3 separate regions of the Homo sapiens genome follow, and regions 1 and 2 are each linked to region 3. Evidence: fine-mapped expression QTL. A gene starts in region 3. Each other region holds a variant in brackets. All regions are shown on one strand. Distances are between the middles of the regions.

The links. PIP is the estimated chance that this variant, and not a neighbour inherited with it, causes the effect.
Region 1: its variant is the best candidate, but not a certain one, in a credible set for the expression of CHN1 in whole blood (INTERVAL, PIP 0.57).
Region 2: its variant is the best candidate, but not a certain one, in a credible set for the expression of CHN1 in whole blood (INTERVAL, PIP 0.80).

The regions. Positions count from the first base shown.
Region 1 is chr2:174,727,084-174,737,119 of GRCh38, forward strand. No RefSeq gene overlaps it. Among named protein-coding and RNA genes, the nearest start is that of CHRNA1, 32 kb to the right of the region's middle. RefSeq lists an enhancer at 2,740-3,479 and a silencer at 3,078-3,372. The variant G/T (reference allele first, on the strand shown) is at 5,376.
Region 2 is chr2:174,833,405-174,843,440 of GRCh38, forward strand. All of the region lies in intron 7 of CHN1 (chimerin 1), which reads right to left. Among named protein-coding and RNA genes, the nearest start is that of CHRNA1, 74 kb to the left of the region's middle. The variant T/G (reference allele first, on the strand shown) is at 5,295.
Region 3 is chr2:175,000,433-175,010,468 of GRCh38, forward strand. CHN1 (chimerin 1) reads right to left here and starts at 4,949. Exons shown (of 13, transcript NM_001822.7): 1 at 4,462-4,949. The coding sequence starts at 4,480. RefSeq lists an enhancer at 4,119-4,665 and a silencer at 4,650-4,709.

The DNA of each region.
Region 1 (10,036 bases), 270 kb before region 3:
TTGAGTGAGGGCTAGGAAAATGAGGCTGAGATTGGCTGGGCTGCATTCCCAGAAAATCAGGCATTCCTGGCCTCTGGATGTTTACAGTAAAGGGAACAGATTAATAATGTTTACTAAAACAGACCCAGACTTGGGAGTGTCCAGATATCCCGATATCTGGAGAACAAAGGCATTCTTAATTTTGCCTTAAAGATAATAATATTGATTCTTACAAAAGGTAGTAATTACGAAAATTAATCCTTTATCACAAACCCTCGTAGCAGAGCACATCTCCCCAAGATCTATTTTTATCCTATATATATAGCAGCACTGTACATAGGGTGCATGCGTTCCTCCTCTTACTTTCGGGAAGGCCCTACTCTGTCTAAGGAGTAGCTGTCCTTTCACCATTTTACTTTCTTAATAAACTTGCTTTTACTTTGCACTGCGGACTTGCTCTGAATTCTTTGTTGCTCGAGATCCAAGAACTCTCTCTTGAGGTCTGGATCCGGACCTCTGTGCTGTAACAATTACACAATATATGTGTTTAAATGTATATCATCATGTTGTATACCTTAAATATATACAATCGTTGTCAATTAAATGTTCTAAAATCAAAAAGTCTTCACATATATGAAACAATTAAAAAGTAAATACTTATTTTTCTTAAGATACAGATCTTTATTTTTTTGGAAGAAAATAAAAATCCCAAAGCAGATAATCTTATTTTAGTTATAGAAAATAATCTTATTTTAGTTATAGAAAATAATTTAAATATATTTTGGTATTCGATGGTAAAAATATTGATATTTACTTAGTTGAATTAAAAAGTGAATATCTTTCTAGTAACTTCTTATCTTTCTTGGTCAACTGAGGTTATTATTATTTTTTTTCTGAAAATATGTCAGGTTCATACAACTGAGGTTATTAAGAAAAATTATTCAGTGTTCCTGTGTAGCAGCTAAATTCATTATTTAATGCATTTTAAAGAAGCCTATTGCTTAAAAAATGCATAAAAAGCAATAGACTTCTTTAAAATGCATGGGTTGCAAAGGGCCCCAATATGAAAGTTCAGATTGAGCTAAATTGAAGATAATGTATTTGAATGTCTTATTATTTGGAAGTTATTATGATGGAATTGGTGGAAATGAAGGAAAATGTTGTCCTGGTGTTAACCTTTGTGGGAGGAAGCCTTGAGAACCATCCTCCCCCGCAGCAACAGGTGGGTGTTCCTGGAAAAGGCTGGTTTGTTGGTGGTGGTGGTGGTGTGTGTGTGCGTGCGTGTGTGTGTTTTGAGATGGAGTTTCGCTCTTGTTACCCAGGCTGGAATGCAATGGCGCCATCTCGGCTCACTGCAACCTCCACCTCTTGGGTTCAAGCGATTCTCCTGCCTCAGCCTCCGAAAGTAGCTGGAATTACAGGCGCCTGCCACCACACCCGGCTAATTTTTGTATTTTTAGTAGAGACAGGGTTTCACCATGTTAGCCAGGCCGGTCTCGAACTCCTGACCTCAGGTTATCCACCTGCCTTGGCCTCCCAAAGTGCTAGGATTACAGGTGTGAGGCACCGCGCCCGGCCAGGGCTGGTCTTGTGTAGAGAGATCAGAGTGGTTCGGAAGCTTGACAGGAACAGGGATTTCTCCTTTCCTGGTGTTGTAATGACCTGAAAATCTGTCTTGTTCTTCAGTCTACCTTGTTCTCCACCCAAGGGTGTCGGGCATTTCCCAGCTTCACTGGCCTCCCGGTCTGTGCCTGCTGCTAGACTCCATCCGGGTTCCACTCACAGTTCTCCTCCCAGGGCTTTTCCCAACCACCCTGCCTCCTGCCTCATTATCCAAGGTGCCACAACCTATTTTACAGATTTCCTTGTTTATTTCCTCTCTGCCCTCTAATGCCATTTAAAAAATTTTATCATTTCTACTTCAGTTTATTATCTATTATGTAAAATAAAATATTTCCTGATTTTGATTTATCGTTATATCCCAAGGACCAAGAATGGCGCCGGGTACGGAGAACACTCAGCATCCTTCCATTTGTGGAAGGAATAAATATTTGTGTATCTATGTAGATCTGTTTTCCCACTTGCTTTGTGATCTGTGTATTTAAAGAGGGGGCAGCTTCTTCACAAGGCATTCTTTCTGGAAACAGAAATGCAATTCTTCTTAAGGAAAAGTGGATCATTAAGATTTCTGAACTAGTTTTGCAACTATATAGAGAAATGTTGGAGTAAAAGTTAATTCCAATGTTAAAATTCTATTCTGTAATTATCATAAAAACATAGACTTTTAAGAGCGTTATTTCTGGATCACACAGTTCCACCAGCACTCTCCCTAGTAGACAGCCTCAGAGGGGCTCAGAGCAGTCGGTGATATGCCGGGGACACCCGAGTCCCAGCCAGGAAGTGCCCAGGGAGGAATGAACCAGACCTATGGGAAGGAACAAGTGAGTCCTGCCAATGCAACCCCTGTCCTCCCTTTAAAAAAAAATGACAATTAAGCTTAATGAAGGTATTTGCAATTGAACCATGGATCTAAAAAGGTAAAAGTGGGGGAAAGTTAAGAGTTTCTAATTATAAGCATCATCTTCCTGAAACTCTCACTTTTACCCTTAATTCAGAAAAGACACGTGGCTCTTAACCTCCTATGTACTTGTGTTGCAGGTGGTGTCTTTGGTGGCTGTTCACCCTTCCACAGTAAACATGCTTGGGAAGCAACTTTGCCAAAAGCCTTCGGACAGTCCAGCGTCAACACCGCAAGCCAAGTGGTAAGGCCCGCGGGGACAGAACCGTCGGACCCTGGTGGCGAATCTGGGATGGATGAATTCGTTGCTGTTGCGGCGGGCGGTGTTGGCAGGAGCGCTAGATTTGCTCGGGTTGGAGTGTGAGATGTTCCCTTCCGCCGAAGGAGCCCATGCAGACAGGGCTAGATGTACCTTCTGCAGCTTCTGCAGCGACTTGAGGCGCGTCGCTGCTAGAGGGTCCTGGTGCCCTCGGCGTGCGTGAGGTGCTGTGTGTCCCTCCCCACCCCCCGTACAATCCTCCCCGTAACTGGGCAGTGGAATCGGTGGGCACTGGAAGGACCCGACGCAGGTGATGGGATGCAGCGCTTCCAGGTGGTGACCCCGGCTGGACGTGCGTGGGTGCGAACTGCCACCCGGGCTGGGGCCAGCTTGCTGCGCCGCTGCCTCCGCAAGCCCTCCCAGCCCGGAGCTGAGTCTGACGAGGATTTCTTACGCGTTCAAGCGAGTGTGGAGCGGCGAGGCAGTGCACTTGCCCCATAGCTCCCGCGCTGGGAAACCCGGAGGGGAGGGGCTGTGGAGGGCGGGAGCCCCGGGCAGTAGGTCTGTGCTTCTTCCTTGGTCCCATTACACGGGAAGGGCAAGGTGACGCCACTCAGCCACGCAGGCCTCGCATTGGTGCCTTCCCTTCCCTAGCCAGGACGCGGCTATTAAACGCTGCTTTTAGCCGATTGTATTTCCTGTCTTTGAATCCGTTTTCTTTCTCCTCTCTGGTTGGTTGGTTCTAGCTCTAAGCCCATCAAAGACTTTAAGGATCCTACACAGAGTGCTGCAGGCTCCCTTTGTCAGAATTGGGGCCCCTAGGAGCTGAGTGCGGCAGGTTTCGCCTGTTCCTGGAGCTCGTAGTCAGGGTCGCTAGTGCACTGCCACTCTGAGGACTGGACGGAGTTCCAGACCTGCCTCCGGGGACCTCCTGCGTGAGGGCGGAGGCCCTTTCATGACCGTGAGATGCTCCGGGCCTTCCTGGTCAGCATGAGCTGCAGCCTCCACGCTGGGGCCTCCTGCCAAGTCCCGGGCTTTGGTGACTTAAGTGCCTTTTGCAGTCTCACCACCCAGGGAAAATTTATAGCGGTGTGGATTGAATTTTTGTTTTAAGTCTGATTGTGTTCTTTAATCTTGCTAAGGGAATCGCTAAGGGTAGCCATTAAATTATTTTGTGTCGTTTAATTTGATTTTCCCATAGGTACCCAATAGGACAGCTTAGGATGAGAGCACTCTTTAAAAACAAACAACTGGCTGGGCGCGGTGGCTCACGCCTGTAGTCCCAGCACTTTGGGAGGCCAAGGCGGGTGGATCGCCCGAGATCAGGAGTTCCAGACCAGCCTGGAACAACATATAGTGAAACCCCGTCTCTACTAAAAAATACAAAAATTAGCTGGGCTTGGTGGCGCATGCCTGTAGTCCCAGCTACTTGGGACACTGAGGCAGGAGAATCGCTTGAACCCGGGAGGTGGAGGTTGCAGTAAGCCAAGATAGTGCCACTCTACTCCAGCCTGGGCAACAGAGCGAGATTCCGTCTCTCAAAAAAAAAAAAAAAAAAAAAAAAAACAACAACAACAATAAAACCCTTTTAGATACAAAAGTCCAAATTTTTAGAAGTATACCTATTTCAATTGTGACTCAAAACCAACAAGCCTTTTCATGGCTTAAAACCAAGAAGCCTTTTATCACTTAACCATGGGCTCAAGAAGTGCCTCCAAGAGAGGGTGCAAAAGCACACTGTCCGCCTTGGCATCCAAATTGCTCCGAATATCCTAAGAACGGCCAGACCTTTTTAAAAACAAGGCAATGAAGTTGAGACAATTAAGACAAACTCCCCTAAGAGCTGGCACAGTGGGACAAAGAGATACTTTGGTTCTGGACTCCTAGCCAGTTGGCTAGCCGCCTGAAGCAAGCCTGACAACGTGCGACTTCTGCTGGCAAAGACCACAGAGAATATCCTCACTGGTTCCCGAGCTAAGCTCTCAAGACATAAAACAAGATGAAGGCCAAATCTTATGATTTTCCTCCTTATGACAAACTACACAAAAGACAGAGACAAGGAAAACAAGGACCATTCCTGGGAGGCTGTGATCTATAACCAATGGGTACTCAGAACCAAATTCACAAGAGTCACAATTTGAAAAATTAATTCTTATAAATGTTTTCTCCTACCAATCTGAATTGGAAAGGAAAAGACGACGAACAATGTTTACCTCCCTTTCTCGAATGGCCACTACAGACAGAGATCTAAGAGCTGACTGGGTGAGATTTCCTACTTTCTACCATCTTTTGTCAGTCTTCCCAGTCCCATCTCCAAGCTGCAGAGCTAGTGGGCATCCCTGCCTTTTAGGGTCCCTCCCTTGTCACCAGAAACTGTAGGGGAGGCAGAACTGCACCTCCATCCCCTTGGGGTCCTGGCTGGACTCAAGAATTAAATTGATATAAGATAGATCAACAGAAGAAAAACATACAAATTCACTTAATACAAGTTTTATGTGGCACAGGAGCCCTCATACGGAAATGAAATCCCAAAGAAGCCGTTAGAATCTGTTACTTATGTACTGAATTGGACAAAGCATAGTAAGTTGTGAAAATGAGGAAAGACAAAGGGACTTGGGC[G/T]AGGGAGCTAATTGGGTAGACATGTGTTCGGGAAGATGGTATAACAAGGTTTGTTTGTAAAGAATTTCTCCAGCCTCAGTTTTCCGTCCTTGATGATAGGAAGGTTGCGTCTGGCAGCAGAATCTTTGTCTGGGGGGAGCTGCTGTGCAAACCACCCCCTACCGAATTTCTCCTCTCCCGCTTTCTTATTGCAGGTAGTACTCCGTTCACGCCCAGCTGTCCTGTAGAATGGCAGCCTAAATGTGAACAAAAGCTATACCCCCTTCCTTTGATGCCTTTAGTCCAACTAAAAGAGGCTACAAGTTTCCAAATGAACTTTGCATTACAAACATGAAGATGTGAAAGTGAACAGAGGGAAGATGAGGGCAGGCCAACCCCAAGGGCCAAGGCTGCTGCTTATCTTCTCCTGAAGCCCCTTCCTCTCCTGACCTCTATGGAGAAGCCCCCCTAAAGTTCCTTTCTCTACCCCCAGGGCTAGGTTACAGCCACCTCCTAGGTAGACAGTGGGAGACTACAGAACCACAGGCCCCTCCAAATACCCTTGGCCTTGACAGGACTGCGACTGCCTGCCCACTGTCACTCCACCTGAAGTCGGGGATCACCCCCGTCTTCCCTCTGGGTTCCATGCCCTGCCCTGTTCCCGTTCTTGCCGCATCAGCACTGTTCCTTAGTTGACAAAAACCTCCCTATGCTTCTGGACACCTCCTGCCCCCAGTTAAGCCAGGATAAGCTCTGCCCAACTCTGGCCTGAAGTGTCTCTCCCCATCCTGCAGCCTCTCGTGAAAATGTCTATTACTCCCCAGACCGCACTCAGCACAAGCACGAACCTTCCCGTTTATTCCCACAAGTGCTGTGCCTGCTGGTGGAAGCATTTCTCTCCCTTTCTCAGACAGTTTAGGGCAGAACCATCCTTGCACAATCTCCTTCTAGTCTCCATTTTGGTTGTATCTTACAAAATCATAGCTCAGCTTCTTTTTTATTTAACATTAAAGCGGAAGAGTAAGTCTGGTGTCACTTTACACATCCTCGGGGCAGGGAGAGTTGTTGGGTCCCCTTCTGTCACTAGGAGCATGGAATCCCCAGAAAGGTGACCTGCTATCAAACCTGGACAAAATTACCTTGAGGAAAAAGATAAAATAGACTTAATTTTCCAGACAGATAAGGATAAAAATTTTTCCAACTGGCAACAAGATTACCAATGAACCCTTCTCTCAGAAACTATGTAAGGAAGACAAATTAGAGAAACAAATTTGCTACTCGTCTGTCCAAATATATGTTGCACTCTGTACAAACCTCACCATGGAAGAAATCAAGTGTGTGAAAGCCTGCAGCGCCAGCCAATCTGAGACAGGAGGGCCCTGGGGCCTGGACATATCTCAGCTCTAATTTTTAAAGAAAACATGTAGGTTTTTTTTTTTCTGATCAATAAGCTCTGGAAGTTTTTTCTGATATAACTTTTCCCCCTTTAACAGTTTTATTGAGATATAATTCACGTACCATACATTTTAAAATATACAACTCAATGGTTTTTAGCATCCATCACAAAATCAACTTCAGAACATTTTCACCCCCACCCTTCACATTTCTGTATCCTTTAGCTATCACCAACAACATTCCCAAGCCTAGATAACCAATAGTCTCCTTGCCACTTTGATATATTTGCCTATTCTGGACATCCTACATAAAGGGAATTACACAATATGTGGCCTTTCGTGTCTGCCTTTTTTCACTTAGGATAATATTTTCAGAGTTCAGCCATGTTGTAGCATGGATCAACACTTCATTCGTTTTCATGGCTGAATAATATTTCACTGTACAGTGTTATGAGTTGAATTTTGTCCCCAAGAAATTCATATGTTGATGTCCTAAACTCCAGCACCTCAAAATGTGGCCTTATGTGATGACCGGATCTTTCAAGATAATCATGCTAAAATGAGGTAAGTAGGGCAGGTCCTAATCCAGTAACTGGTGTCCTTATAGAGAGGGAAAATTTCAACACAGTGGTGCATACAGGGAGACAGCTGTTCGAACACAAAGACAGAGATTTATAAGCCAAAGAAAGAGGGCTGGAACAGAGGAACCAACCACCGTGACGCCTTGACCTCACCTCAGACTTCCAGCCTCCAGGGCTGTGAGACAACACATTTCTGTTGTTTAGGTTGTTGTACACTTTGTTACAGCAGCCCTAGCAAACTAGTACATATGGGTACACCACATTTTGTTTCTCTGTCTGTCACTTAGACTTTTGGCTCATTTCCATTTTTTTGGCTATTACGAGTAATGCTGCTCTGAGCATCCACACACAGGTGTTTGTTTTCATTTCTCCTGGGTATGTACATAGGAGTGGAATGGCCAGGTCAAATGGTAACTCTGTTGAACTGTTTGTGGACTGCCAAACTCTTTTCCAGTGTGGCACTGCCCTTTCACATTCCCTGCAGGAACATATGAGGGTTCTCATTTCTCCACATTCTTGTTGACACTTGTTACGATCCTTCTTTTTTACTGTAGCCATCTTAGTGGGCGACGGTGGTGTCTCACTGTGGTTTTGATTTGTATTTCCCTGAAATGATATTGAGCATCTTTTCATGTGCTTATTGGCTGTTTGTACATTCTTTGGAGATTAAATTTTTTAATCCAAAGGTTCTGGGTAATCCAGGCCCTGTGCATCTCTGCAGACACATGTTGGCTATGCCACCCTTCCCCTCACTCTGATTCCAGTTATCTGACTTTCTTTGGTCTTTGGAGGCAAGTTCTGTACATTTTACTATATCAGGACCCTTATACTCTCAAGTCACTTGAACAAAGACAATTCTCTTCCTCATCTTTGCCCTGTTAACCTCAACTCATTTTTCAGAGTTCAGTTCAAGCATCACTGCCTCAGGTAAGCCTCCTTCGGCTACCCCAGCCAAGGGTCCATCAACTGGCTGAGCTCACAGAGAGCCCCATATCAGGTAAATGTGTTCAGTCTAGAAAATGGCCTAATCGCCCCACCCAAATAAGTCCTCAGTTCCACTAGGTACAGCTTTATCACCAAATTTTAATCTTTTCACTAGGCTAGGTAATCATACAACTTTAGAACTGAGTTAACTCTTTCAAGTAGGAAGATGAATATCCCTACCTTTCACTTAGATTTTCTGAACTAAAATAAAAATTACACTATAATTTATCTTGGTATGAATTGGTTATTTTCTGAAGTTTCATTTGGGCATTTAACAATCAAACCCATATCTGAGCTAGAATCCTTTGAAGTATCCAGATTAGGGTTGGGGCACTTTAAAGTTTGAGAAAGAAATAACGTTTAAGAGTGACCAGGCACAGTGGCTTATGCCTGTAATCCCGGCACTTTGGGAGGCTGAGGCGGGTAGATCACCTGAGGTCGGGAGTTCAATACCAGCCTGACCAGCATGGGGAAACCCCGTCTCTACTAAAAATACAAAGTTAGCCGGGTGTGGTGGCACATGCCTGTAACCCCTGCTACTTGGGAGGCTGAGGCAGGAGAATCGTTTGAACCCAGGAGGTGGAGGTTGCAGTGAGCTGAGATCATGCTGTTGCACTCTAGCCTGAGCAACAAGAGCGAAACTCCGTCTCAAAAAAAAAGAAAGAAAAGAAAAAGAAATAAAGTTTAAGAATATCAAGAATAAAGTAAGGCATTATGTTCATTTTCTTAGAAAGCCACTAAGCCAATATAAGAGAAGCACCATCTGCTGTGAATTGAATCACCTCTCTAGACCCAAGGCAGCCTTCCATGTCAAACACATGCCCAGCTACAAATGACAAAGGGTGCCATGTCTTCAGGGAAAAAAAGATTTAGACCAAGACCAAGAAAGCTTTTTTTTTGAGACGGATTCTCACTCTGTCACCAGGCTGGAGTGCAGTGGCGTGATCTTGGCTCACTGCAACCTTCACCTCCCAGGTTCAAGTGATTCTCCTGCCCCAGCCTCCCAAGTAGCTGGGACTACAGGTGCGCACCGTCATGCCCAGCTAATTTTTGTATTTTTAGTAGAGCGGGGTTTCATCATGTTGGCCAGGATGGTCTTGATCTGTTGACCTCGTGACCCGTCTGCCTCAGCCTCCCAAAGTGCTAGGATTACAGGCATGAGCCACTGTCCCCGGCCTAGACCAAGAAACCTTAAGTGTTTCCCACTAAAGGGAGAACAGAAGCCCAACCAATTTTATGATTACATTTGGTTTGCTTTCCTTGTCATCCCTCCATTTTGTGCCAGGGGAGCTGTATGGTTTCTTTGCTCCATCAGCTTGGCAACACCCTAAAAACTTCTGGGACAAATAAGTCACTTGACACTGGAAAAGAAAAGGGCACCTGGTTTTAGATTTGTTTTGTAATGAAAAGGCAGATAATGGTGCCTTATTATCCTGGGGAAGGAATTACTGTCCTTCCCCAGTTAATAGTCATGCAGGCAAACAATTGTCAGCTGATTTATTTAATAAAATGACACAAATGATTTGAACATAAGGAGCTGAAGTTGGCCAGAAAATGTGGGATCAGAGCAGAGAAGACCTTGAATGCAACCAGGAAGAACTGGTATCAGGCAGTGATTCTCTCCCACAAGGAATGATGTGGAGTCACACGATTACCTAAGAGCTTCAAACTGGAATGGGCTTTGCTGTTTCCCCAGATGTTGGGGGATTTTGGTGAATGTCAA
Region 2 (10,036 bases), 170 kb before region 3:
AGATATAGAATTCTAGGTTAATGTTTCTTTTCCTTCAGTTCTTTGAAGATGTCGCTCCACTGTCTTGCATAATTTCTGATGAGAATTTTGCTTTTTCTTTCACTTCTCTCTGTGCCCTTTATATTTAATGTGGGTTTCCTGTACACAGCATATCACTGGATCTTGCTTTTTTGTCCAACCTGACAATCTCTGCCTTTTAATGGTGTGTTTGAGTCATTTTCATTTAATGTAACTATCAACCTGTTTTCTATGCATTCCATTTGTCCTTTATTCCTTTTTTTATGTTTTATACTCTGAATTAACTGCATATTTCTTATGACTCCATTTATCTCCACTGTTAGTTTAACTATGTCAATTTTAGTTTTATTCTAAGGTCTAGAACATACACATCTTTTTTTTTTTTTTTTGACAGGGTCTCACTCTGTCACCCAGGTTGGAGTGCAGTGGCACAATCATAGCTCACTGCAGCCTCACACTCCTGGACTCAAGTGATCCTCTCACCTCAGCCTCTTACGCAGTGGGAACCACAGGCATGTGCCACCACACCCAGCTAATTTTGTCTCTTTCTCTTTTCTTTTCTAAATAGAGATGGAGTCTTGCCACGTGCCTCAGGCTAGTCTCAAACCCCAGGGCTCAAACTGTCCTCCTGCCTCAGCCTTCCAGAGTGCTGGAATTACAGGCGTGAGCCACCATGCCCAGTCTACAATATACACCTTTAACTTACAGTCTACCTCCAAATAGTATACCACTTTATGTAATGCCCAAGAATCCTATACATGAATATACTTCCACTTCCCCCATCCTCTACTCTACATTACTGTTGTCATACATTTTGCTTGTATAAACTACATAATATATTACCATTTTTGCCTTAAAGAGTCAACTATCTTTTAAAGATACTAAGTCAGGAAAAATATCTTTTAAAGTTACCCATGCTTACTATTACTTCTAGTGTTCTTTATTCCTTTGTGTAGTTCTAAATTTCCACCTGGTATCATTTTCTTTCTTAAAAAGTTACTGTAATATTCTTGTAGTACCAGTCTCCTAGGGATGAATTCACTCAGCTTTTGTTTGTTTAAAAAAATAAATATTTTCTCTTCATCTCTGAAAGATATATTTGCTAAATATAGGATTCAAGGTTAATAGATTTCTTTTCCTTCAGTCCTTTGAAGATGTCACTCCATTGTCTTGCATAGTTTTTGATGAGAATTTTGCTGCCATTCTTTATTCATTTTTATGTAATGTGCATCCCCCCAACTGCTTTTAAAAAAAACTTTGTAAGATGTGTGAGTACCAGTGAAAAAGGAAAATAATTTGTTTCCTCAAAGTTGACATATCTGTCCTAACTAAAATAATCCTCGAAGATATTAACAGAGAAGATAGTAGTATAAAAATAATTTATATTCTTTTAAACAAATGTGCATTGTATTCTTGAGTGTGAGTATGCACATTTAAGATTCTATAAAACCACAAAACTATAAACACATTATGAAGCTGAAATGTGAAAATAAAACTTAAGAGAAACCAAACGTATGTATAATTTCTAGATCTGAGAGACATCCTCTGTACATTACGTGTGGGATGAACAACCTCAATTCTTAGGCTGAGGCAAAGTATGGATTCTCCTTGACTTATGATGGGGTTACATGTCAATAAACCCACCATAAGTTGAAAATATCATAAGTTGAGAGTGGGGTTTCTACTTTTGATATTTTCAATTTATGATGAATTTATCCAGATGTAATCCAATCCTAAATCCAGGACTGTACTGAATGAATATTGCTTTCAGACCATCATAAGGTCAAAAATCATAAGCTGAGCCATTGTAAGCCAGGGGCCTTCGGTATCACTTTACAGTGAAAACTGTTCTTTCCCCAAATTTTCTCACTCTCTCTGGCTGCTTTTACAATTTTCTCCTTAACACTGGTTTTCAGCAATTTATGATATGCCTTGATGTTGCTTTCACCATATTTTTTTCTGTTTAGTGTTTAGTGTTCACTGCATTTTTGGATCTGTGACTTTTCATCAAATTTATACAATTTTTGGTCACTATAGCTTTAAATAATTGCTCTGTCTCCTGGTTTCCCATCACTGTTCCTTCTGTGACCCAAATTACACTTATGTTAAGACTGCTTGCTATTGTCCCACTGGTCACTGATGTTGTGTTCATTTTTTTTTTTTTTTTAATTCTCTGTTCTTCATCTTGGATATTTTGTATTGTATTTTCTGGTTTACCAATCTTTTCTTCTGTGGTATCTAATATGCTGTTAATATAATCCAGTGTATTTTTCATTTCAGATATACTTTTCACCTCTAGAGATTCAATTTGGATTTTTAAAGACAGCTTCCATTTCTTTCCTCACTACAACCTTTAGTCTACTGTTAATTTTGGTCACAGTACTAAGATGATACCCTCTTGAAGAGTCTTAACCAATGCTCCATGTGTTGTGACTTCTTTCTGTTTCTACTAGTGGGCAGAATGAGTCTTCAGTGAGTTTCAGCCATTGTTTAGCCTATTGCTTTCTGGTGGTTTCCCAATAGTTTCTTCCCACATATATGCAGATAAGTCATCAGTAAAAGACTCAAGAAGGCTCCTCGGCAGATCTCCAGAATGCCTTTTGTGTGCAGCTCTGTCTCCTCAGGCAGTCTCTGCCCCATACATTTGAGCTGCTTTGCACCTCCCCCACGACCCCACCCTAATCTCTTTGTCCTTCACTGGGGTAGACCACAAGACTCTGCTTGGACTCCCCCTCCATGTGCTGTGGCCTGGAAACTGCCTCCAAGCAGTAAGAGTGATCTTAAGAATCATTTTGTTTGTGTTCCTTCTTTCAGTTGTCACAGTTCTATACTACCTATTGATCAATGTCTGGCTGTGGTTTTTATATACTTTTTCTGGTTTGCTAGTTGTTTAAGATGGGAAGGTAAATGTAGTTCTTCCATCATGACCAAAAGTAGAAATTTAGTTTATATTATTGGTTCTACTGATTCGTTCATGTGAACGCCAACCAGTGACTTTAATAGGCTTCAGTTTCTACACATGTAAAATAAGATTAACTTAATCAGTAATTTTCAACCCCCTTTATACAGACTGAACTGCTTCAGGATTCTTTTGTCATCCATGTTTCATGAGCACATCTCACCCAGCAAAGTGTTACATTAACACTGTCATATTCAGTAGGCTGTTCACTAAGATCTTGCAATAGGTGATTTCATTTGACATTTAATCTTGTAGAGGGCACTGCTTATTTTTCAGTACACAGAACAAGTTCTTATTTTTCATAAAAGCTCCCAATCCATGTGAATCGTATAGAGCTGACCTCTTCCCCAGCTCCAGGGGAAGACCTGGATCTAAGCCAGTACATTCCCTTCTCCTGACTGGAGCTACTGGTGCAGAGATGAGCATATGATATAATTGGTCAATGACTGCCATGCCCAGAACCTTTTTTCAAACAGTCTGTCTTTGAGGCTGACTAGAATCTGGGAGGATACAGAGCTGAAGACTTTGACAGTCATCTTGTCACCAGAGGGAGCCTAAAAATGAAGAAAGAGTTGGGAAACAGGGTTCTGGTGGCATTTTAAGCCCCTAAGTCAAAGGATACCTTCAATTAATGCTGGACTTTTTCTACTATGTGACACAACAAATTCCCTTTTTTCTTAGTCCAGTGTGGGCTGGGTTTTCTGACACTTGCAGTAAAAGTCTCTCAACTGTTCCATCAAATAGTAAATATATTCATGGTAACAGATTAAGAAAAACACACTGAAGTAATACAATTGCGGAGTAATGAGCTGTAACAGCAACCATCAAAGCAAATTAGCACACCCCCTAGAGATGGACTTCTCTTTAAGAACAAGGGCATGTGTACCAGGCAGAGCACAAGCAGAGATCAGGGTTGTGTCACATGCAAGAGGTGAAGCTCCAAACAAAGGTAGTTCTAAAAAGAGAAACAGAGAATATGATATTTTAGGCCTGATTTGGGCAAATCCATTCACATGGATAGCCAAAACGTCACCTCTAATACAAAAGACTGGAGGATATCACCTAATGTGACAACAAGCCTCTGACTACCATGACCTAAAAATAGATGTGTTCTTTTAATTTTTAAGTCTGGATAATACCTTACAAAACACGCCAGTTCTATTTTTGCTCCCCAAAGAACATAAAAATATAGAAAATAAGCAGCTGATGATATGGTGGTTCTTCAACTGTTGGGCTACTGGCCTTTTCCTTTATAGTTTTCCTATTTTGTAACCAGAAGAATCTCAAGATAATTTAAGAAGAGGGATTAGAAAACTGGAAAAAAAAATCTATTAGTATGTTGCTTGTCAAAAAAATAATTTACAGTGGTTTTCAGCTACCAGAAGTTTTTGTGTAGTAAAAATATTTAAAAAGAAAAACCATTGCTTGTCACGTTTTCATTTATTTTTTAACCTATATTCCACTTCCTTTGGTGTATATACACATCTCTTTTTCTACTTTCTATCCTTTGGGCTATTTGATGGAGGCAACAATATTTTTGTGTCATGCACTATTACATAACAAATGATGAACACCAACTAATGATACTAAGTTTACTGAGATATGGAGTACTTGACAACATAGACAATAATTGAAGCAAGATGATAAGACATGTACGTATTCTTTAGGTACATGCTTTAACCGTCCTACTAACAGTCATGGTAAACCTCACTCTTTTTTTTTTCTTTTTTGAGATGGAGTTTGCTCTTGTTGCCCAGGCTGGAGTGCAATGGCACGATCTTGGCTCATTGCAACCTCCGCCTCCCAGGTTTAAGCAATTCTTCTGCCTCAGCCTCCCAAGTAGCTGGGATTACAGGCATGCACCATCACGCCCGGCTAATTTTGTATTTTTAGTAGAGACAAGGTTTCTCCATGTTGGTCAGGCTGGTCTTGAACTCCTGACCTCAGGTGATCCACCCACCTCGGCCTCCCAAAGTGCTGGGATTACAGGAATGAGCCACTGCGCCCAGCCAAACCTCACTCTTAATAAGACTTTGTCCTATAGGGAATGTTGACACAGTGGGTCACAAAAAAGATGAAGTATGATAGCACATTTTGTCAGTTAAACAAGGCTTGAAACACAGAGACATGAAATATTACATATGGTATTTCTCCTATTAACTTACAAAATAAGCAAAAGAGAATTAAGACCCAATCCTCAGTTAAATCTGGAAGGGGTGAGTGAATATAAGATAGAAGAGATTACGAGAAGGGGCTTTAGAGTACCAACATGTCTCAAACGGGGGAAAAACCAACTCCTGAAGGTTGGACTGTTGTA[T/G]GAACATGTAAACTGAAATATTAAGAATTTTACAGGCCAGGTGCAGTGGTTCATGCCTGTAATCCCAGCACTTTGGGAGGCTGAGGTGGGCAGATCACCTGAGGTCAGGAGTTCAAGACCAGCCTGACCAACATGGCGAAACCCCATCTCTATTAAAAACACAAAAATGTGGTGTGTGTTTGGTGGTGGGCACCTGTAATCCCAGCTACTAGGGAGGCTGAGACAGGAGAATAGCTTGAACCCAGGAGGCGGAAGTTGCAGTGAGCTGAGATTGTGCCACTGCACTCCAGCCTCGGCGACAGAGTGAGACTCTGTCTTAAAAAAAAAAAAAAATTTAGAAGAAGTGACAATTATTTCATTTTTAATTGATAAATAAAAATTATATTTACTGTGTACAACATGTTTTGAAATGCAAATACATTGTGAAATGGCTAAATTGAGCTAATTAATGTAAGCATTACCTCACATATTTTTTGTAGTGAGAACACTTAAAATCTACTCTCAGAGAGATTTTATTCTCAATGTATTCTTATACATTGTTATTAACTGTAAGAGGTGACTTTTAAAAATTGCGTGTTTTTCCTATGCGTTTATATCCTTAAAGAAAGTATGGTATATATATACAATAGAATATTTATTCAGCCTTAATAAAGGAAATCCTGCCGTATATGACACCATGAGATGAACCTGGAGGACATGATGTTAAGTGAAATAAGTCAGTCACAGAAGGACAAATATTGCATGATTCCACTTATATGAGGTATCTATAATAATCAAACTCAGAATAGAAGAGTGGCTGCTGTTCAATGCATATAAAGTTTCAGTTATAATAGATTGAGTATCTTCTAGAAACTTGTGAGCAACACGATGCCTTTACTTAACAATACTGTGTTGTGCACTTAAAGATTTTTTTTTTTTTTTTTGACATAGGGTCTTGCTCTATCGTCCAGGCCATATTGCAGTGGCACAATCACAGCTCACAGCAGCCTCGATTTCCTGGGCCCCAGTGATCCTCTCACCTCAGCCTTTTGAGTAGCTAGGACTACAGGCATGTGCCACCACGCCCAGCTAAGTTTTGTATTTTTGATAGAAACAGAGTTTTGCCATGTTGCCTAAGCTGGTCTCAAACTCCTAGGCTCAAGTGATCTGCCTATCTCAGCCTCTCAAAGTGCTGGGATTATAGGCATAAGCCACTGCACCTGGCCTTACTTAAATATTTAAGAGGGTAGATCTCATGTGACATGTTCTTATCACACACAAAAAAAAATCTCTCTCCAAAGTTTAAACTACCCTCTGTCGAATTTTACTCTGCATACTCACTTCTGACTGTCATTCTGTTTCAGGCAGAGATGTCATTTGTATTTGTATATGAAATATTGAACCATGAGGAATATGGCATTATTATACATATGTGGCACATAAAATTAAAGGTATTTTGCCAGTGTTTATGCATAAAACCATTCTTTTTTTTTTTTTTTTTTTTTTTTTGAGATGGGGTCCTGCTCTGTCTCCCAGGCTGGAGTGCAGTGGTGTGTTCACAGCTCACTGCAACCTCTATCTCCTGGCTCAAGTGATCTCACCTCAGCCTCCTAAGTAGCTGAAACCACAGGTGCACAATATCATACCCAGCTAATGTTTTAAATTTTTTGTAAAGACAAGGTCTCTCTATGTTGCCCAGGCTGGTCTTAAACTCCTGGGCTCAAGCAATCCTCCTGACTTGGCCTCCCAAAGTGTAGGGATTACAGGCATGAGCCACTGTGCCTGGCCCCAAACCCTTCCTATGACCTTCTCATCATTCTCATTATATTGACATTTGCTTTCTTTTCAGTCAGTTTGCATATATCCAGCAGTCAAGGACCGTACATTACATATTACTGTGTCTCCTCCCATGTCTAACAGAGTGGTCTGCACACAACAGCTGCTTGATAAATACTTGAGGGATGAGCAAGGAGGAAACGGAGCTAGGAAAGCCTGGAGAGTTTTATTTTAGGTTAGAGAATACTGTGGGCAAGATGTTTCGACACTGTTAAGGGATTTTTCTTTGAAAAGATTGAGTTAGTATGTTCAACAGCAATTTTTCATACATATATTGAAAGAGCCAATCTTTTCAGGGGCCCACATGGACATGGAACAAGAGGCTAGAAAGGAATGAGGAAGACAAAACATGTCTTCCTCATTTAAAACATTTAAAAAAGATATAGTAGAAAGCTTGAATGGAAGAGACAAAAAACATACTGATAAGTAATTTGTGTCAGCGAGGCAGTATAATACAGAGATGCCAAATTTGGAACTTGGGGAATAAAGACAGATTATAAAACATCTCCAGAATAAAGGGCCATGGTCTGTGAGAATAATATGGGTTTCTCTGAAGTATAGCAATTTAAATTCTCTAGTCCCATAAGATAGCTACAAAGAAGTATATGCAACTATGTGCAAACCAACAAGAACTTTGTGAAATGTTTCTTTTCGGATTATTAGTGGCAGGTAGTAACCTTTCTGATAACCTTAAGGATCTGAATGACTTGTACTCGGGGTGTCATACCAGTTCCCCAGCCAGCATGACAAACCATAAGGCCAGGCAGGGTGAGGTTGAGAGGGCCACCGTGCTGAGGGGCAGTGCACAGGTTCTGTGGTCCTCCTCACCAGCAGCATTGGCAGAAGTGGAAAGCAGAGCAGTGGCTGTCATTTTTGGCTTCTGCAGCATCAGATATGTACTATAATAGGCAGCAACAGAAATACAATGTTTACAGGGACTTTAAAGATGATTCTGACCAATTTCCTAGTTTCTCTTCATCAGTCCTCTACATGTCCGATTGCCTTAGGCAGACAGAACCTATGCTACATACTGATCTGCGCTATTTTTGTCTTCTCTTGCAAGTGGCCCACATTGAGAACTGGGGAAAGAGTGTGTGTGTGTGCATGTGTACAACAGAAATACATATAATTCCACTTAATTTCTTTCTTGGAGAAATTCCAAGTAAGAAATTATTTAAAATTATTTAAATTTCCAAGTAAAATTATTTAAAGGAATAATTCACATTATTCCTTTAAAATGTTTATGTTGGACACTCCTTGTTCATATCCACAGAAGAGGCAATGATGAGAGACATTATTGCAGAAGCATAATGAAGCATTCTAGATTGTCATTTCCCTTTTGTAATATTGCATTTACCTTCATTTACAATACCATTAATTCAAAACACTATTCAAATTCCTGAGCATTTAAAATATGTACACAGATTCTCTAGTCAATATCAGATAACATGATGGTATCTTGGGTTTTATTTCATTTTGAAAACTCACATAAATCTAATTAAAAGAAAACATTGTAACAATACAGATCTTAAGACCAATAGAAGACTCTATTTTTGTGTTAATTTCCTGCTGTCATGAGAAGAGGTTTTCAAGTAACAACAACCAAAGGTCCCCCGCATGTCACACTGTGTACTCATTTAGTCATTTATCAAATGCTTCTTGAGCATCTGCTAGTTACAGGCATTTTACTAGACATCGGGAAAGGGCAAGGAAGAATGGAGGGAGGCAAGGTGGTGGTGTGAGGGTTGGTGGGGATAATATGAAAGAGGTGATAGACACTGTTTCTGAATACGACATTTCACTGCTGTTAATATAAAGTTTTAAATATTCTTTCATATATAGTTAATTTTAGTTCCTTTTCAAATCAACGTATTGAAAATTTGTCTCCATAGGAACTTCAATAAAATTTTAATGAAAAATGGAATACTTGTAATAAATCTAATGGTTCACAATACACTATAATTAAGTCCGAGAATTTTAGAGCTGTAAGAGAACCCTTAGACCATGTGGTTTAAAACTTCACAGTTTATATTAAAATTATTATTTGTTCATTCATTTTGTATTAATTTTATTATAAATGTGAACCAAATGAAGACCAAAGGGGGCTTGGATTTGCCCACGTCCTCGGGAGGAAAGGAAAGACTACCCTCAGCAAGAGTGTCGGCCACTGCCGCCCTTCAGTTCACCAGACAGCACAGTGTCCAGTCTGTTGGCTAGGATTGCTGGGTTCAGTATGATCTCTTTTTCCTAGTAGGTCTTGAATCAGTAATTTTATTAACTATTATAAGGTTCATGTTACAGTGTTATTTTAATTGCAATATCAATTCACATTTCAGGATTCACTGTTTGCCTGTTATCTTGGCAACACTAAATCTATTAATACAATATCTTATATCTTTCATTTACATGCAGACTGCAAGTACCTGAAATGAAAATCAACAACTAATTCAAGACTACCTTAAAAAATTAAACTCATATTTTTAGTATCTACTCCCTATAATTCTTAATGTTGTTTTCTTTTAATTACTTAATTTGCCTAAGTAGCCTAGCTTCTGTCGTTATTATAATATTGTATCTGCTCTTGATTTTATTTTATAGAGCTATCTGAATTAAGCAACAAACCAGATGAAACATTTAACAGTTTAATTTGAAAAGAGTAAAATAAATATAGAGGATTTCACTGCATTCTGTAGTGCATGAAAAATGTAGCTTTTATTATTTATTTATTTATTTATTTATTTTTGAGACGGAGTTTTGCTGTTGTTGCCCAGGCTGGAGTTCAGTGATGTGATCTCGGCTCACTGCAACCTCTGCCTCCTGGGTTCAAGCGATTGTCCTGCCTCAGCCTCCAGAGGAGCTGGGACTACAGTCACGTGCCACCACACCCGGCTAATTTTGTATTTTTAGTAGAGACAGGGTTTCCCCAT
Region 3 (10,036 bases):
TGGCCTGATTTTTTTTGTTTGTTTGTTTTGAGACAAAATCTCGCTCTGTCTCCCAGGCTGGAGTGCAGTGACACAATCTCAGCTCACTGTAACCTCTACCTCCTGGGTTCATGGGATTCTCCTGTGTCACCCTCCCAAGTAGCTGGGACTACAGACACCTGCCACCACACTTGGCTAATATTTGTATTTTTAGTAAAGGTGGGGATTCACCATGTTGGCCAGGCTGGTCTCGAACTCCTGACCTCAAATGATCCACCCACCTCGGCCTCCCAAAATGCTGGTATTACAGGCATGAACCACTGCACCCAGGCTTTATTATTATTATTATTTTCTGTAGAGATGGTATCTCCCTGTGTTGTTCAGGCTGGTCTCAAACTCCTGAGCTCAAGTGATCCTCCAGCCTAGGCCCCCCAAAGTGCCAGGAGGCATGGGCCACCCATTACAGATGTGAGCCACCATGCCCAGCTGGGTTTTCTTATTTTTACTCTTTTAGAGACAGGGTCTTGCTGTGTTGTCCAGACTGGAGTGCAGTGGCTATTCACAGGCACAATCATAGTGCAACTACAGTCTTGAACTTCTGAACTCAAGCAGTTCTCTTGCCTCAACCTCCTGAGTAGCAGGGACTACAGGCACATTGCCACCATGTCTGACTAAAATATTAAGTTTTGACACCAGTACAAGAAGGAACATGGACAAAAATTTAAATAAGGATGATGATTTAAATGACAGCTGAAAAGAATATATTCTGAAAAAGGCAGATGAGCTCACACCACTGGGCCAGCCTCTTGTATTCTTTGGACAACTGAAAAATAAAAATGTCAGCAGAGAGTATAGTCAAGTGGGAACTTCCTATAAAATTAGCTTTCAGTCAAATATGAAAATCTTCAATTGACTTGTCTTTTAAAAAATACATTTTAATTTCAGGACATTCCTATGGGAAATCAGAAAATTTCCTAACTACATCACAAAGAATATGCCATTGCTATTTAATTGCTCCAAAAGATGTCCATAGGTAGGTGTGTCAGGTTAGTGACAGATGCTGAATAAAGTGAGATAATGAAAAGGTTTCCATGGCAGAAGGGTCTGAGGAAAGATGGTACAAAATTATAGCAAAATCATAAGCATTATTAGAAGTGATCTATGGTAGTAAGATGGTGACTAAATGGTAACAAGAATAAGGGGCAAGGAGGGTGAGCAGCAACGCCAGAGGTGACTCTACCCAGATAGAGGACCATTATTCAAGGTTCAGCCAGCCCAGCCGACGGTAACTGAGTTCCCAATCGCATCAGTTGGTCTGGGCTATAAACCACAGCCCCATTAAGCTATAAATGACAGAGATTCCTGCCAAGGCAAGAGCTGGCAGAATGCTTATTCACCCAGCTCTGCCAACTAAGGCTCTATTGGTGTGGCCAATCAGGACATTTTGTCAGGTACACCAGCCACAAATTCCCATATTCAAGGATCTGAGACTTTCCTTTTATCCCAGTAATTACTAGAAAACATGTGCTCTCTACTAAGGAAGTTCTCACAAAGCCTATACGGAATTAGTTAATAGTTAAGTGCCACTCACTATACGGAATTAGGTAATTAGTGAATTAGGTGCATTCGCTATAGTTCTAGAAAAGACTCTGAAGTGCCACTAGAGGACCATGTCTCTTGTACGCTGTGACAGATGTTTGCTGAAAAAATGAGCAAGGTGAGCGAGCAGAGTCTGTAATACATTTGGATAATTTTTGAAATTGGGGGATTTAAAAACTATATCGAAGCTGATAATGAGATGTGAGTTCATTTGAAAGGAGAAGAAAAACGGGTGCAAATTCTTAAGCTTTCAAAAATGCACATTTTCAATTCCCAAATGAGACTGTAAAATCTTTCAAGATTGGGGTCTGGTTCTTCTATCCCAAAATAAAACTAATATGCATTAAAAATATGTTAAGCAGCAAAGGTGATTAACAGTGAGGATGAGAGATAAAACAGTCTTAACTATTCAGCTTAATTTAACAAGTATTCGAGTTCCTATAATATACTTAACAGGTGAAAAAAATTAAATGTATGCAAATACAAAATCAGGTAATGTTAGAGGCTCCACTTTTTAAAACTAAGTCACCAACTCCCTATAAAAAGAACATTTCTTAAATTTATAAAAAGCCTGAATGGAAAGAAAATGTAAAACACAAAGCAAATAACTAGTCTAGACTCTACTGCTGGACTGCACTAACTAATCAACCAAGATACAAAAGATAGGGCCCTGGCAGTCGTTACTCTGGGGAGCCTCAGGTATAAACTCTGCTGAGCTCTGACAAATCCTGTTGATCTGGTTAGGTCCCTGCCTCTAACTCTTTTCACTACCATCTCACAGAACTTTATTGCTCCATTGCTCTTCTGTTCTAAGTTGGTCATTAAGAGTAAATATGAAGGGACATGAGGCACTTCTGACTAAGACCAACTAGTTAAAGGTAGTAAAATCTAAAATAAAATCCATTTCTTCTAACCCTTAGGTACATCTCTCAACATACACAAAAAGCTATTTTGTATTGGGCGAGTTTGACCCAATCTCCTAGCATTTATCTTGAATACAACAGTTCTCAAACTTGAGTGAGCATAAGAATCACAAAGGGAGTCACTTTAAAATCCCCTTCCCCCATGTCTTTGGGCAAAAGAATCTACATTTTTAATAGACATCCCAGATGACTGATGAGTGGTGTACAACCACTTTTAAAAACAGCTGCTGCTCTATCACTACTTAACAAATAGCCTCTGCACTCAAGAGTGCTTTGTTTTATAACACAGAAACGTTCACACTGTAACAAACTGGATTTTGGGAAGTGAATTCTATTTTCCCATAAGTAGACTTTAAAATTTTAAAGATACATTATTCATTTTGAAGGCTGGGAGTGATTTCTTATACTTTCTTCTATAGGCCACATTCCATGCTTTTCCCTTCCTCATCTTCACCACAGTGGTTAAAGATTTAGAATTTAGAAATCCTTTTAAAAGAGCATTTTTCACCCCAATTTATCTTTTTTATTCGTCAGGAATGCGAGTATTTGAAAAGTTGACTTGTAAACCTTACTTCTGAAACCACACCTTGAAAATGCCAAATATCTCTTTAGGAAAGAAAATGTTTGTACCAAAAAGGTCCACATTTAAGGAAAATGCTGCTATTAAATAATGCTTAGATACAAGGTACTGAGAAACAGCGAGAATTTTATTATTTTTCAGAAAAAGAAGACACTTTTTTAAAGTACCTATGGAGGATCATCACCAAGTAAGAAATGGCACTTCTAGTAATGCACTTGGGCACAGTAAACACAGTCCCAGACTGAAGCCTGGTGAAGTGAATTCTAGGCTCAGTTTTGCCACAAAAGAGCCATGTGACTTTGGGAAACAACCTCTCTGGGTCTAAGTTTAATTTATAAAATAAGATAGTTAAATAAAAGTAACACTTTGATTCTAGCAGCTTAATTCACTGGGAAGTATTTACCTCAAAAAGCATTTGAGGTATGTAACACCTCTAACGTGTTTGATCAAATGACATAATTAAAACTGAACTGGAAACTTGATATTGTGAATAACTTACTTAGGCTGTTCTCGTAGCTATCAATTACATATCATTGTACTTTGCTTCTTCAAAAAAGCTGAATACTTTGAACGTCTAATGTTCACATATTGAGTTTTCTTAAAGTCAGGTACGTATGTACCATAGTCGTTTTGTAAAAGGAAAGAATGTATCTTTTCAGTCCTTTTTCCCAACCCATTGTCATTGCAGACTGAGAAAAAAACAGCTTGAAGTCTTAACCACCAAAAGCAACAGTGCTGCAGTAATTACACCACAAAAATAACATTTCATTCTTAATGAATACTCAGTCTCCTGAGATTACAGTTATCTTCTGGTAACCAACTTTATTCTGTCTGCTCTCATTCGTTAGTGCAAACATTTTCAATTTTAACCCATATTCAGTTCACAAATCATACTTATTTCCAACGGAATATACTGAGTCCAAAAAAAAAATTCCCCAATAGTCCAACAGGAAGCAACACATGCATTTGGCAATTCCAAGGAGGCTGGGGACTCACAGATACCTCGTTCAAAATAAATAAACTTTCCAAGGATTTATTTACCGACGGGAAAGGCAGGTTTGAAAACAACCAGTTAACTTCACTCCCAAGTTGGCATCTTAGAGAATCTTTGTGCGTTTGCAAAACACCCAGGACCTCTGAGCCTCCCAGCCGAGAATTGGCCAGGGGAGCACACGCCCATCGGCCCTGCCGGGAGAGGAAACAATGGGAGAGGCGCGAGGGAGCAAGCCGGCGCCCCGGGCGCCCCAACTCTGCGGCCCCGGCCCGCCCCGACCCCACGCGCCGCGCCCCCTCCCCGGGCGCCCAGGCCCCCCAGGCCCCCGCCCCCGAGCCCCGGGACGCGGCCCACCTGCGGCGGCGCGGGGAGACGGCTGCACTTACCAAACAGGGTCAGGGCCATTGTAAAGGCGCTCGCCGCCGCCCGCGAGTCCAGGCGCTCCTCCCAGGCGGGCTAGGGATCACCTCATCAGCCCGCCGCACCCACACCTCGGAGAGAGTGGGGTGCCCGATGGGGCGTGCTGGGGGCGCCGGCGCCCGGGGAGGCTGCAGGCCGGGACGCGGGGGACCGCTGCAAGAAAAAGTTATTCACGCGTTATTGTCGGGCGCACCGGGCCCAGGGAGCCCCGCTAGCTCTCCGCGAGCCGGCACTTGTCGCTGCCATCAGGCGCGGAGCGTGCGCGCGGGAGGAGGTACCTGCGAGGCAGGAGGCTTGGCCGCGGCGCAGTGGCTGGCGGAGAGGCGGCGCCGCACTGGCGGCGGCGGCGGCGGCGACGGGGAGAGCAGCAGCAGCCTCGCACAGCCCCCGGCGGGGCGCGCTCACTCCGCATCCCGCGGCCTCGCAGACGCCATCTTGCGATAGCGTCTCCCACGAGCTCGGCCGCGCCGCTGCCTCCCGCCTCTCCCTCGGGCTTCCCGGTCGAGTGCGTTCCCATGGCAACGGGCGCGCGCGGGGGTAAGAGGGTGCGCCCTCATTCCCGCGGCTGCGAGGAGCCACCAGCGCCCCCCTGGAGGCGGCCGCCCGGAGCGGGATGGAGCGGGGCCGGTGTGCGTTTTAGCTGAAAGCCCAGGTTTTTTCTTGAATGGAATTTGAGGAGGCGCAGAGAGGAGAAAAACGCTGTTACTCGAAAGAGGAAGAGTCACAGGAGGATGCTGAGTGAACGCAGCGCCCAGGCAGGGTCATCTGGGGACCTGGTGCGTGTGAGAACATATTTCTTCTCCTGGCGCCCTCCAGGCTCACTGTGGCTGGAGCCGGTGACCTGAAGCTGCAGGGCTCTGGTAGGAACAGAGGCACTGAAAGCTGCATTCCTCTCCGTTTGGACTTAGGAGCTGCTAGTAGTTCTGATGAAATTGACACACATTAGGAAAAGGAGTCGCTTAAAAAGCATCTGAGATTACCTAAGATAATTTGTTAAAAGACCAATGCTTACACCTGATTTTCTTCCCTTTACATTATACCTCTTTGATATTGTCTCAAGGAAAAAAAAATCAGCATGTGTCACTGACTGGCACTTATTTGCCACAAAAGATTGTTCCCCTGAGCTTCTTGTATTTATCTGATAATCACTGGCAACGTCCTCCTTTCTGTGATGTTGTCTCCTCACCTCTGTCTCTGCCATGAGGAGCCATACAACGCCTTGAGATTGTCAGCCAAAAGATGTTCTTGAAAAGCTGGGTTATATGTTTTTCGTCGTTGTCGTTTAATGTATTCAAAAAGTCATTCTTCTCTAGTTGCTATATGTGTTCCCTGTTTAAGAAATTCCTTCTTTTTTCTTGTTTCTCTGCTTAGGGATTTGATACTATTTTGGTATCTGATCATGTAGATCTTCTCTTTGGTTCTCCTTTCTTTCTACAGGCGTCTTTCCTCTTAGTTCCTCAGGTTCCCTAGTGTCTTCTCTCCCATTTTCAAATAATTCTTTAAGAATATTATAGAAATATCTTGTATTTAATGTATCTTAGAGATCGAATCCTGATAAAGTGGGAGATTACTACAGTACTTCCAATGGAACCACAGTTAATTCACCATCATTATTTCAAAGCAGACTTAAGCATCAGAAGAAAAGCAGGTTGGAAGGAGGAGCCAAGCCTTTTGTTTCAAGTCAGTTAACTCAGGAAGAAAGAAATATTAAAATGATTCAACATGAATGGGCAAGTGTTTAAGATGCTATATGTTTGGAATTTTGTGATGTAAAATGGCTCTCTTTAGCCACTAATCAAAATACATCTTTAAAATCCCCAGAATTTAAAATCTTTCATGAAAATGGACTCTTGATTTTGAACAACCTTTCTGCTCATAAAAAATTACAAACACACAGCTCATGAAAATAAATGAGAAACTCAAGAAAGCTTTGTGGGATAGATTTTATAACCATATAAAGATTGCTGCTAATCTGCTCTGCAGCCAAATAAATCAGAAACCGAAGACTCCATTTACTGTTTCAACTAGTGGTCTTCAACATTTTTGGACCAAATTTCCTTTTGAGGCTCTAATGAAAATACTGTCCCTCCTCTTAGAAAAGTGCTTGCATACATACACACATTCACCGGAAATTTTTCACATAATTTCAAGGGGATTATGGGCTATTCAGGGACCTTAGGTGAGCCCCTGGAAGTGTTTTTTGTAATCTCAGAAAGTTTTTGCCTTTATAATTTAAAGGAAAATATTTTCCTTCAGAATAGAACCATTGAATTTTGAATAGGAAAAGACCAAAACTCCCATGATTTATAGGTAAAAAAATTGAGTTCCCCGTAAAAAGATTTTCCCAAATGTGTTCACCTATTTAGTAGCAGAACCAATGGGAAAATCTTAGATTTCTGGTGTTCTCACCGACCACCTTCCCTACCCACATCCCGCATCAATTTAGAGGTTGCATGGTTTGAATTTCAAAAGAAAAATCTGTTTAGTATTAGAAGCAAAATAACGAGAGTATTTTGTCCTTAGCCATTCTGCATAGAGTTTGGGAAGTTGCATTTTGTCTCAAAGAGTTTTTATTAACATGCCCTTCTACTCAGAACTATGTGTCCCATCATGCTAAAAGAGAAACAATGCCTTTCTCTCCTCTTTGTTAAGCTCTGTTAGAGCATCAAGGTTTTGGTGCTGCAGCTCAGCTTGCTAGTAGCTCTCTCCATCCCTTGAGGGGTTGTCCTGGGAGTGAGACAGAGAGAAAGGAGCTGCCCTGCACTCAGATTTACCCTCCCATCATACAGCCGGCCTTTGGTTACTAGACCAGCTTTCCACTCACTAGTTTGGCCAAATACAACTGAATCCTAGTGAAATACCCTGCTTAAACTCAAGTGAAGATCCTTTTCCTCTCCCCTTTCTACTCGCACACCCACGTACACACACACACACACAGCTGTTTTTAAGGTACAATTTGGAACAAAACAGTGTGAATGTTGCTATGTTTCCCTTTAAAGCATCCTGCTTTCCACGAGCCATTCCTTTCAACTGACTTCCAAATGGTTTGATGCTCTAACAAAATGCTCTCTATACTTGATCAAAGTGCCTGTCTTGGAAATAGTATTGGCTTTTAAAATAGCGTATTTTTTTCAATGAGCTATTCCTATTCTATTGCATGTGCTTCTTTTCTCACTTAGCTGAAAATAAAGCCACAGCCTTTCAGCTACAGAGTCAATGCAAGGAAGGGCGTTAACTGCTTGGAGGTGATTATTACGGGTGGTGACTTAGATTGTTTATAAAAGAAGGGCAAAGAATGAATTGACTTCTCAAAATATTTATGTTTTCATTCAATGATTTCATTTTGTGCTTAACATGCAAGTGCTTAGAAGAGCCAGATTTGTTTATTCGTTACTAACTAGCTGTCAGATTTTTAGACAAATGTTTTACTGTTTCTAGTTCTTATCTTCCTCCTTTGTAAAATGAAAGGATGGTACTAAGGTATCTCTAATGTCCCTTTTAGGTTTATCTGTCATTGTGTGATATTTTAAAATCTTTAAATTAACTGGTTTATGGATAAAACAGAGGACATTTTTATTTGAATCTTCAATATATTTAAAGTGCTGTTATATCTAAAGTTCATAAATACCTAATGTAATAAAGAAGTCATATTTTGTCAAACCAGTGGTACTGCTATTTCTTCTGCAATGTGTTGTACTAATAATGTTATATTAATCATGTAGAAAGCAACCTTTTTCTGGTTTAACAGGATTAAAATTAAAAGTGTGCACTGAACAACCCATTTCAAATTTACTAAAACAATTTCTCATTTTTATTTAAGTTTTGTTGACTAAACAGAACCTAGACAACCCTTTAAAATGGTTTTCCTACATTTTAAACTAATGACTTATCACAAGTGTTTTGAATTTCTTTTTGTTACCCATTTAGCTTCATTCCCATTGGTAAACATTGATTTGTTCCTCAGTTTTCAATGAAGCAGAAATTAATGAGGCGGTTTCTGCCTCACAATAACAAGTTAAAATTATAGTACTTTGTCATGTCAACACAGCTTTAAACACTAGGAATACCAGTGCTATTAGCACAGTTCCCAAAATAGTGCAGAAGTTTGCTAGTGAAGAGAAAAATGTTACACAGTATACTTCTGCTAAAGTTAAAATTAAGAAAGTTAAAATTATTTAAATATTCACAATATGTGACATTCTCTCTATCCCATATTTATGTTACTAGTTACAGTGTTTGTTTCCACTGTGTGAATTTGTTTAAAGTGGATTTGTTTTTGTTTTGAGACAGGGTCTCACTCTGTCACCCAGGCTGGAATGCAGTGGCACAATCTCAGCTCCCTGCAGCCTTGAGTTCGTGGGCTCTAGCAATCCTCCTACCCCAGCCTCTGGAGTAGCTGGAACCACAGGTGCATGCCACCACACTCGGCTAATTTTTGTATTTTTAGTAGAGACAGGGTTTGCCATGTTGCCCAGGCTGGTCTGGAACTCCTGAGCTCAAGCAATCCACTCCTCTCAGCCTCCCCAAAGTGCTGTGATTGCAGGCATGAGCCACTGTATCCAGCTATTTGGTCTGTTTGGTTTTTTGTTTTTTTTTTTTTAGACGGAGTTTCACTGTGTCACCCAGGCTGGAGTGCAGTAATCTCAGAGCTGACTGCAATCTCTGCCTCCCAGGTTCAAGTGATTCTCCTGCCTCAGCCTCCTGAGTAGCTGGGATTACAGGCATGAGCCACCACACCTGGTTAACTTTTTGTATTTTTTAGTAGAAATTGGTTTCACCATGTTGACCAGGCTGGTCTTGAACTCCTGACCTCAAGTGATCCACCTGCCTTGGCCTCCCAAAGTGCTGGGATTACAGGCATGAGCCACCGCGCCTAGACTATTTGGTTTGTTTTTAACAACGTTTTCCTTAAACACTTAATTCCGATTATTTTTTACCCCCCTTCTTGTTTTTTATCTCAGACTTTCTGAATTAATAACTTACCTGATATTTGTGTGGCATTCCATGATTTACAAATAGCACTTTCACAGGACAAAGACATATGCACACAAGTAACTAAGGCAGCACTTGCCTCAAACATAAGGATTTAGACCATAACACTATTTATGACAAAAATAATATTTATGTCATAAACTGTAAAATTGCCCGTTAAGCTTAAATAACTCAATGTTTAGGAGAATTATTTGTGTTCTGTTCACCACCAGAGGGTGCCTAAATTATAATAGTAATATTGGGCCTTAGAAATGAAGTAAAACTCAATTTGAGAAATACATAAGAAACCTTAAGAATTTAAAACTTTCTCAGTTCCCCTACACAGTGCTTGCTATAGTAGCAGAAGATAGTCACCAAAAATATGCTAAAATGAGAGGTGGCTATCATCTGGCTAGGCGCAGATTAGGAATTGGATTATTACTGAGGAAACACTGCTCAGCTCTTATTATATCACTTCCGAAGTAAAAAGAAAATGTGTTTGTAGAAGCTGTGTGTGTGTGTGTGTGTGTGTGTGTGTGTGGGTGTGAAGGGAGGGGAAATTGGAATTGA